2 separate regions of the Homo sapiens genome follow, and region 1 is linked to region 2. Evidence: fine-mapped expression QTL. A gene starts in region 2. The other region holds a variant in brackets. All regions are shown on one strand. Distances are from middle to middle.

Evidence for each region.
Region 1: its variant is fine-mapped to the expression of MTURN in whole blood (TOPMed, PIP above 0.99).

What each region holds. Positions count from the first base shown.
Region 1 is chr7:30,159,577-30,164,947 of GRCh38, reverse strand. It overlaps MTURN (maturin, neural progenitor differentiation regulator homolog), which reads right to left. Exons shown (of 3, transcript NM_152793.3): 3 at 2,186-5,371. Among named protein-coding and RNA genes, the nearest start is that of MTURN, 27 kb to the right of the region's middle. RefSeq lists silencers at 1,440-1,499, 5,097-5,156. The variant G/A (reference allele first, on the strand shown) is at 3,151.
Region 2 is chr7:30,132,193-30,137,563 of GRCh38, reverse strand. It overlaps MTURN (maturin, neural progenitor differentiation regulator homolog), which reads right to left and starts at 2,578. Exons shown (of 3, transcript NM_152793.3): 1 at 2,266-2,578. The coding sequence starts at 2,427. It overlaps LOC105375216 (a long non-coding RNA gene), which reads left to right and starts at 2,850. Exons shown (of 3, transcript XR_927146.3): 1 at 2,850-2,960; 2 at 4,109-4,247. RefSeq lists silencers at 1,451-1,630, 1,951-2,090, 2,283-2,660, 2,431-2,680.

The DNA.
Region 1 (5,371 bases), 27 kb before region 2:
ATGAGCTAAATGGCACACTTCATCGACCGGTCAATAAGTCATGTTTATCGAACTGACAGTGTGTGACGCAGGGGTGTGGGAGCTGCAAAGATGGGTGAGCAGGGAAAAAAACAACCCAGTCAAATGTTAGGGTTTATGTATAAAGAAGGCGGCTCTTCACTTCTCTTTCCCCAGCCTGGACATTCACCAACCCTCCTTTCCAAAAGCTCCACAAGGAGATGGGCATCATGATCACCCTGAACTCAAAAGCCCTTTCTTTATGTGGTGCTGACCTCTAGAGGCTTCTAATTAAAAAGCATCCGAAAGGGCCAACTTAATTTTACTGCTGGTTTTTACACTGTACATTGTTGCCCTATTTCCCAACAAAATAAGGATAAAATATGTTACTTTAAATGATCCCTAAAAAAATGCCTACCTTGTTCCTTGACTGCCTAATTAAAACTTGCCCAGATCATTACAAATGCCATTGTTTACTCCAAAAAGGAAAAAAGGAGGGTTAGAGATAGGGAAAGTACTTCAGTTTTTTGTTTTTTTTTTTTTTGCCTATTGTGGTCCTAAGAGGAAAGCACAGTGCCAGCTTTTTCAGGATGCATTTCTTGAGTTTCCAAAGGGCCAAGTCTGCTAAACAGAGACAGGAATGTTCATTCACTCTGATTTGGCAGGGCACAGGGCAAAACCACCCTGACACTCAGGTACACGGACAGCAAGTCCACTTTGTCCAGCCCCGGCGTGGCGTCCAAATGCTGGGTGGTGGGTCTGGTTCTGTTTATTTTGTTGTCCTTCAACCCAAACCTGTACACAAAGAACTCTATGACAATGGAGGATCCCACTCGGCCCAACTTCACTATGGAAACGAGGCTCATTTCTAAAGGGAGTGAGACTGTTGATTACATCCCTAAGCTGAACACCCCAATTTTACTTTGTTGTAGTTCTGACTCCTTATTACTTTCACGAAGGGAAGGAAGGTGTGGAAAGGCAGGAGAAAACACGCAGGGACATAAGCATTTGGGCTAACACACAGCCACGATATCAACTGGCGTCTTCAATTCTAAAAGGGATCCTAGGGGAAAGAGCTTCAGAATCCCAGGACAGTTTTGCCAATCCTGGCCGCCCCACCCTGGTTCTGTGAGTGTTTCCATTACAACTGTGCTTCATGTCCTCTCTACCGACTCCTGACTCCCCTAGACAAGTCAGGGCTAGTGCCCAAAGGGAACTCGGGGACAAGTCTCCCACTCTTTATTTTTACAGATGAGGAAACAAAGCCGGAAGTCGGTGGGGTGGGGAGGGGACATGCCTAGGGCCACAGTCAGCCCAGGAGGAGTCTGGGCTAGAACCTCTTGCCCTCAGCCACTGATTTCAGAATGATTACACGGGGGAAATGTGGGTATTTTTAACACCAGTGCCCGCACTTAAAGGGGCCAACCTGCATTTTATAAACTCTATCTGTGAGACGGATACAATAACTGTAACAAAGGAAGTCCATAAGTAAGACTTCGCCTGCCCCCGCTGCTGCACCACGAGCAGGGTTGGGACTGCTGACACAGAGCTCACCACTTGAGTACAATCTCTAACAGCCACATCGAAAACAAAGGACCACACACTATCTAACATACACACAAGCCTTTATGCTGTGCCTGTAAAGCAAAACTCAAATCTAATCGAATCTAATGGGTCTCTCTATGGAGACCCATTCATTTGGAGAAAGAAACTGGCTCTTAATCAAATAACAGAACTTACCATCAACTTCCAGATGAGTTATTTAAATGCCATGTTTGGTGAATAAATAACCGGGAGGAAGGTGGTGGAGACATGGTGTCATGTCATAGAATGACCACAGAATACAGATTTCTAATTAATGCCAAAAAGAATTCCTAAGTAGGCTAGAAAAAATAGGGTTCTCAAACACAAAACTAAAGTATTGGTTCAAAGAAGTAGAAAATTACTAACTACCAGTTATAGCATCACAATAGACATATGAATGCATCACACAGAAATGATTAATCTTTGAACAATGGCAGTGTTTCATGTTACCAGCTCCTCCCTCTCTTCCCCCAGCCTCCTCACAAACAGCAACCACACAGCGAGCTGCCGGTCCTTTACTCTTTGCTCTTCATTTATAAGCCACATTAGGTGTCCTTTGGGACCAAACATTGTGGAGGCAGAAAAAAAGAGGCAAACACCACCAGAGTTTGAAAGGCTCTTTAATAGCAAGCGAATGGTAATTACATGGTCGGATGAGGTCCTCACTCTCAGGGGAGGGAGGAGGGAGCAGAGGTGGACAGGGTGCAGTATAGGATTTACACTGTTTGAAGCATCTAACGAAGGGCAACAGTTTTTGGCAACCCAATTCACAGTTTTGTAATTTACAAGAGATTTCTTTGAAAGGAAATAGGAAGGCAAAGAAAGCACACATACCCTACCGGCAACACTTCTTGCCTAAAAAAAAAAAAAAACAACAACCAAAAAACAAAAACCCAACAACTATTCCTTGCTTTTGCTTCTTGTGTAGATGACTAAATTTTGCTCTCATGCTCAAATTAAGACTGGATCACGGATAGTGAAGATCTGCCCTAGCATTGAAGATTTACTTCCTCCTCTTCAGAGCTGACATTTGTACTGCGCACTACTCTTATCTTTATCTGCCTAGGTGTCAGAAGGGGCTTAGTAAAAAATGAAACTTGAGAAACAAAACAAAACAGAAAAACAGGGAAAGGCAGTTTACAAAGAACAGACTGTCAGCTTTCTGTCTGGTATCAAACAACTTGAATACAGCTCTAAGTAAATTAAAACATTTATTTTTATGTGGCCTGGCATCTACTTTTAATCGCTTGTGCCTATTCAGCCTTATAGTGCTTTAAATGGGGTTTCTAACATGAAATGCTCATGGGTACTATATTTTCGTAATCCAGATTTAAATAAAAATATAAAAGACAACATATTATGTTAAATAATATGTTGTCTTTTATATTTGCCCAGTGAGCAGAAGCTATAGATATTTTACCATGGACACCCATTGCCATGGACACCACAGGCTACCAGCATTCTGGCAGGTTTCAGAATTACTCTCTATAAAATCTAAAAGACTTCAGCTTCTTGTGTCATACCTGTTATCACTAAACTGGGAGAAGTGACTGGGTCTTTATGAAAAAG[G/A]ATCAGTTTTTAATTCAAAGAAATTTTAGGCTTCTCCGAAGACTGGGTGATCAGCAATGGCATCTCTTTGGAGCTAACACCCACTGCAGGGGAGAGGGGTCTGTGATCGCTTAAGCATTAATTGTGCTCTTTCTACAACCTTGAAGCACAGTGAGGAGGTTGGCCCTGCCCTCTGGCCTGAGGGGGCACTCCTGCTTCCTCCCCGCTGCCAAGGACACCCAAGTTTGCTTTGTGATTTACCTGCCGGGTGCCTGGAGCCCCTCTCAGATCTGCCTGCATTTGGGAAAGACAGGCTTCTCAGGCTGGCAGCTGGTTTTACTGAAGGAAAGAGCCCTACCAGATGAGCAGGGTTCCTGTTGGTCTCCTTGGCTGGGGGGCACTTTTAAAGTGGCAAAGCCATGCCAACACAAGGCATTGCCTCTCAACATACAGTCAGTTCCTTTGAGGAAAGCAGGCCCCCAGTGAGACAGCCGTGAAAATGAAAACAGTTTTCCTGGGGCTCAGGTGGTAACTGTCAGACCCCAACTCTCCCATTCTCCCTTATTCATCTCCTCCCACCCCAAGTTAAGTCCTGCCTATTCCTTCATGCCTCTCTGTAAGAAATCAGATCTGTTCATACCAGTTTCCCAACTTGTGAATTTTAACATGCAAAGCCTATTCCTAAAATATAAATTCCAATGACACTTGGGACCACAGCTCCCCTAGGTCCATGTACATTGTGCTCTTATGAAACAGAAACAATATTCAGAAATATATTGTGCTAGAGACGGTTTCTGTTTATACATGAAAGATGACAGCAACTATAAAGGAGAGAGGTTTTCGTTGAAGTACACTGGAAATCTAATTCTGGCACCAGGACACAAGGAGGATCCCTACATAAGAGACTTTTCCATTGCACCATGTGCTGCTTTGGGCCTGGGAGACAGGAGTGGACACCTGAGTGCAGGTGAATCCACAGTGGTGACAGGCACTACACGGGGCCTCACCTCCCTCCCTGGCTCCGTACTTCACTCTGATTCCTTGACGTCTGCTCGATATGGTGATCAGGCTGCGGAAACCAGGCGGCCATAAGAACAATGTCTCTAGGATTCACTCAAACCCAGGATCACGGTTTTGTAATGTTATCAAGGCATGATTTTGGATTTCAGAGCTGGCCCAGTGAACAACAAGCAATCAAGCATTCCTTTCTCTTTCTTTCTCTCTCTCACATATACACACACACTCTTTCTCTCTCACGTTACTTTCACTGTCACTTTCTCTCTACTGGATAACAGGCCAAAAGTACTGGCACTCATCTTTCACTTTCTTCCAGCTATTCTTCCTACACATCTCTCACTCTCAGGTAAGTTAAACATACACCACTTCCAAAGCCCCAGTCTGCCACAGCACAAAGAAAAGCCATGTCTCCACAGGCAGAGCATGTACAGCTGAGATAAGTCCTCTGGGGCCTCACCTTTCCCTTTCCTCTAAGGAAGAGAATTTCATCTGCCCCATGAGATCGAGCCCTCAGGGGCTTGGGCACTCACAGATCAACATGTTCTAAGGTAGTGCAGGGGTCAGCATCCTAAAGGCAGCACCTTGGCAAGATCCCACATGTATTTTCTTCTCGAATCCCTAAAAGTTTCCTTGACTGTTGCTCCTTACTCACACACACACATAAGGCAGGCACAGAAGGGCAGTGTTTACAGCTGGAAGGGCAAATGCCCCTTGTTCACAGACCAGTTAGACTTGTCAAGGTCACACAGTCCTTGGCCGACTTGAACTAGAACCCAGGTGTCTCTCCTGCGTCCAAGGTCAACACTCCTCCTCCCACACCGCTGCCACCTCCTGGTGAGTAAATGTGTAAGTCTGTGAAGGGTCAGGGATGTGTTTCACCATGGAACCATTTCCATAACAGAAACCACAGGCTGCCAGGCTCACTGACTGCAGCTTTGCACCATGCACAGCCCTGCTTAGAGCAGCCACAGCGCAGGAAGAAGTGAGTGTGTGGGCAAGTGTGTGAGCACGAGAAGGGATGTGCACACATTCAGAAAAAGGAAGTCTTAGAAGAAACAATTCGATCTGCTAATGCTGTTTGGGATTTTGCTATGGAGATTAAGTAACATACAGACATGTTCTCTGTTTCCTACCCCTGGTGCAAAACAAAGCCCAGAATTCTCATCAGCCCACAGAATGGCCGAGTCTATCTATCTCCACTCAATTTTTATAAACAGAGAACATT
Region 2 (5,371 bases):
TCTTTCTATCTATTCTATTTAAATTGTCAGTTTACATGACACTTTCAAGCATTTTTCTCATGCAGATGGGAAAATATTTAAAATCTGGGTGGCCTCAAGAGAAAGGCCTGATACAAATAATATAATACTTCTTACTTCTGAACGATGGTTGGATACACATATTCATGGCAAGAGAACAGCCTTTTGTCTTCCTGGCCCACTTACTGTCTTTGGAGTCATTTCTTTGGGTATGGCCTGGGCGGTCCCAGCAGGAAGGCTGTGTGGGCTTCTCCCCAGTGAAATCCAGAACCATGAGCCATTCTTGCCCTGTTTCACACGGTCAGGAGGGAGAAAGGGCGCTGGCAGATGAAGGAAGCCCAGAGCTGGAAGGGACCCTAGCCAAACCCTAACATTTTACAGTCAGCTGGATTCTGGTGCCCTTTCCACTGTATCCTGGGGGCTTTCTCACACTTTTGCAATGGAGTGAATCCCTTTTTAATGATCTCCCACTCCTTCCAAAAAGAACACTTATTTACTTACTTTACCTACAGTTAAGATGGGCTTACAGGCATTAATATTATTGTTCAGTTGGCTCTTCTGGAGGTATTCTGATTAGCCCCATTTTACAGGTGGGAAAACCAAGGCTCTTTAAAAAATGAGACAAGCTCTAAATTCTGGGAAACCCCAGGTCTCTAACCCCAAATTTGTGGGGCTCTTGCTGTGTGTTAGGGACTATTCGGTGCGTTACCTATATGAACGCCTGGGTGCTGGCATTATTATACCTATTTTTTTGGATGTGGAAACTGAGCTCAGGGTGGGTATTTGAGCACAGTCACAGAGCCAGAACTCAAATCTGGCTGTCACACAAGGCCATCCCTCTTCTGGAGTGCCACTTGTGGAATGCCCAGGTGGATCCCTGCCCTCCTCAGGGGGTGCGTGTGGGCGGAGGGAATGCTTTATCGGCCAGGCATACATAAGCCTTCACCTCTCCAGGACCAAGAAAGGCGGTCTTGCAGTCTCCCTAACTCCTTCGCGAACTTCCCGTAGGTGGTCAGGGCGCTCGGCGGCAGGACCACGGCCCAGCTTTGTCTCCCCCACCTGAGGAGCGTGCACCAGGCCGCGCCCCGCACCACCCCACCTCCGCCCACAAGGCCCGCGACCACACGGTCACCCGCGCCCACGGCCGCCTCCATCTTACATTTGGGGATCATTATTTATTCCCCGACCTTGGAAACACTTCATGAGCACCGTGCTCGCCCTACTCCACCCCTCCCACCCCGACTCCCCTGCCCTCCGCATCCCCTTCCTCAACTGCCAGAGTCGGGATCCCAGGTGGGTGCAGGATTCAAAGTGGAAGGTTTGGACACCGCAGTCCCAGTTCCCGGTCCCTCTGAGCCGGGGCTGAGGGGATTCCCCGTCATCTGGAAAAGCCAACGGGCTTCAGCAGGGCCAGGGCACCGCCTCGGCTGGAGAGAACCCGCCCGGGCCACACACACCTCTCGGGCAGCTCAGAGAGGCAGCGAGGGCAGCGCGGGGGCAGGGGGAGAGGCGTGCCGCGTGTGCGCGTGAGTGTGCGCGTGTGAGGGTGAGGGTGTGAGCATGTGTGTGTGTGTGTTGGGGTGTATGCGCAGGCGCGCGTGCGTATTAAGATCCGGGGTGTAATTCCGCAAAGAAGGTCCAGGAGATCGGGCATCGCTAGTATGGACAGAGCTTTGTGTCCAAACAGGCAGTGCAAGGACTAACCCGCGAGGGCGGGGAGTGGGGTTCTCCCGGGAGGGGCAATGCGAGGAGCCGAGGCTGGGCACCGGAGGGGAGCGGGATTCCTATCCCGGACGGGACGCCTGGATGTGGGAAGCTCCGGACCTGGGCTCCTGCCGGAGGGTCCGTGCGCCCCAGACCCGGCTGGTCCGACGCGGGTGACACCCACACCCCAGGGATGCTCCATGCCAGGCACCGCGCACGGGCCGCGAGGTCGGGTTCCCGAAACGGCGCCCGCAGCAGCGGGGAGAGGAGTGGCCTTTAGGGGGACGCCACACCTCCCGCCCCGACCCGGCTCCCCGGATCCTCCGGGCGCCTTGCCCGCCGCCCACCGGGCCCCACCCGGGCAGCGGAGCCCGCACCGCCCGGCCCGGGGCTTCCCCGGCGGAGCACGCGGGGCGCGGGGCGCGGGTTACGGCCCCCCACTCTGCGCCCACCGCCGCCCACCGCGCGGGAGCTCGGGCGCAGGGACGCACCGCCGCGTCCACACTCCCGCCGGCTCCGGCGGTCCCTCCTCCAGGCACTCACAAAATTGTCGCCGCAGCCGTTGTCCGGACACAGCACATAGAAGGAGACGCCGGGGTCGGCGTAGAAATCCATCCTGCGTTCGGTCTCCTCGGTGGCGATGAGCTCGAAGGGCGTGTTGGAGCACCATTTCTCCGCAACGTCGGCCAGCTGCTGGAAATCCATCGCGGCCCCGCGCCCGCCTCCCGCCGCCGCCCGCCCTCCCGCTCCTAGGCGCCCTCCTCCCGGGCGGGCAGCGCGGCGCTCGGCTCGGCCTGCGCGGGCTCCTCCGGGGCCGGGCTGGGCCGGCTGGGACTGTTTACATGCGGTGCGGAGTGGGGCGGGCGGCGGCCGGGGACAGCGCGGCGCCGCGCCCGCGGCTCCTCCTCCGCCCCGCCTCCCCCCGCCCCCTTGCGGGCCGCCGTGGGGGTTGGCGCGGCCGGGCCGGGACGCGGGGCGGCGGGAGGAGCGGCCGGCACCCCCGCGGGCGCCCGGATTTTCCTGGGCGCTCCCGCCCCCCCTTTATTTTTAAACAAACCCGGAGCATCCCGGGGCCCTGGCCATCGCGGTGCCGCCCCGGGCCGTGACGTCATGGGCCCCAGCCAATCACCGGAGCCTGAGACCGCGCCGCGGCTTGCGAGCCCGGTGACGTCACAGCGCGAGCCTGGAATCCGCAGCTCCGCGGGTTACCTGGAAGCGGTGCGAGCGCCCAATACCTGGTTAGCGTTTCTGTGGAGTTAGAAAGCCCAGGAAGCGTTTGCCCAAATGCGATTTAAATGCAAGGGAGGCCATAGAACTGCAGATAACTTGGACCTTGTCTGGGGCTAGCAGTGGAGGAGCTGAGAAAATCTAAGGAAAAGGGAGCTTTTCTTTTTGCAGAAACCAAAGTTCTGTTCTCCGATTGATTTAAGGGAATGTGTCTTCTTAATGCATTTATCAGACACTAATATGAATGTTCACTTGCAAAGGGCGTGTGTGATTTTTTATTTGCGTTACGTAAAGCTGAATATTTCTTAGAAATGAGCCTCATAAGACTGGCTTCAGTATTATTCAGCTTGAATTCACATTGCATAACCTAAAAAGGTCAAGAGGATAAAGCACATTTTAAAACAAGAGTGTGTGGCCCAACGATTGCACCTGTTGAGTGCTCACTGGCTGCCATATACTGGACAGGCATTACTGGATTGCAGAAAATGCACTAGGGTCCTCGCCCTCAGGACTTGAACACTACAAACACAGACACGTTATAAACATTCAGCCAGCTTTTTTCTGTAAAGTGTGTCTTCTGAACCAGGCACTGTGCACGAATTTACATTCCCACCAACACGTATATATGTTTCCTTTTCTCTGCACCCTCACCAACATCTGCTGTTTTTTGACTTTTTAATCATAGCCATTTTGACTGGTGTGAGATTGTATCTCATTGTGGTTTTAATGTGCATTTCTCTGATAATTAGTGGATGTTGAGCATTTTTTCATATGTTCGTTGGCCACTTGTATGTCTTTTTTGAGAAATATCTGTTCATGTCCTTTGCCCACTTTTTAATGGGTTTTTTTTTTTTCTTGTTGAGTTGTTTGAGTTCCTTGTAGATTCTGGATATTAGTCCTTTGTCAGATGCGTAGTTTGCAAATATTTTCTCTCATTCTGTAGGTTGTCTATTTACTCTGTTGATTGTTTCTTTTACTGTGCAGAAGCTTTTTAGTTTAATTAAGGCCCATTTGTCTATTCTTGTTTTTGTTGCACTTCCTTTGGGGTTTTAGTCATAAATTATTTGCCTAGGCCAATGTTGCAAGGAACTGAATTCTGCCAACAACCCGAATGAGCTTGAAAAGCAGATTTTTTTCTCAAACTTGTTGTCTTTTCCAGACAAGAACTGAGCCTGACTATTACCATGATTGCAGCCTTCGCAGAACCTGAGCGAGAACCCAGTGATGCCATGGCTGTGCTGGGACTTCCGACTTTCAGAACTGTGGGCTATTAAATGGGTGTTGTTTTAAGCTGTTAGGTCTGTTTAAATTCTTCATGCAGCAGTAGAAAACTAATACACAGGACAATGAAGGAGACAGGCACATGAATATAAAAATGCAATATGCTGTTGTAAAGTTACAAAATGGTCCTTAAAAAAAAAAAGTATGGGTGTCTCCAGATAGCACAAGCTTCCTTGCAGTTTTACCTGGCACCACCATTTAAAGCATAATATGTGTTCCAAAAATGAATTCCTTAAATTGGAGATGAAAATATGAAAAATACATTCCTTTTTTCCTTTTTCGGGAAAGAAGGAGTTTTTTTTTTAATCCATGTGTTTTAAAATGTATCAGTCAAATTTGCTCCAAGTGATGTGATCAGAATTATGAAGTTATGTTTATTTAACAAATAGTTTTTGTCAGAAAATGAAAAACTCTTATGAAAAATAAAATTTTGGGTACAAAGCAATTGGTCAATGAAATGGATACCGTTGGGTTTCCTTAGAAATGCACTGAGAGCAACAGCAAAAGCTTCAGAACTCCATGTCTGCATTGATTCCTCCCTCTGCCATTTTAAGTTTTATGTGCATCTGCAACTTCCTTCATTGCTCGGAGCTCAGTTTTCTTTTCTGAAAACAGGGACAACAGTGAGATAAAGTATATAAAGTCCTTATCCCAGAACCTAGCACATAGTAAGAACTCAGTAAATGCCATTATTACTCTTAATCTACTTCTTAGGGATGATGTGTAAGAAGATCAGCTAATGAATTTTTAAAGTGAAATTCAGGAGTGATATGACTGGTAATATTGGTCACAGATGAACCTAAATCTCATTTTTTTTTCCAAGTCTTTAGAGCAGGGTTTCTCAGCAGCAGCACTATTGATATTTGAAGCCAAAAATTCTTTGTTGTTGGAGGCTGTCCTGCACATTGCAGGATTTTTAGCCACATTCCCTGGCCTCCACCCACTGGATGCCTGTAGCATCTCCCTCTACCCTCCCCTCTCTCCACTGTGACAAGCAAAAATTTCTCCAGACATTGCCAAATGTCCCCTGAGTGCAAAATTACCCCTACTTGAGAACCACAGATTTAGAGAGAAAAGTCTTGCAACAGTCGTGTTTTGGTCATTTTTACTAACTAGTGGAAAGGGTATGCACATAAAGCAG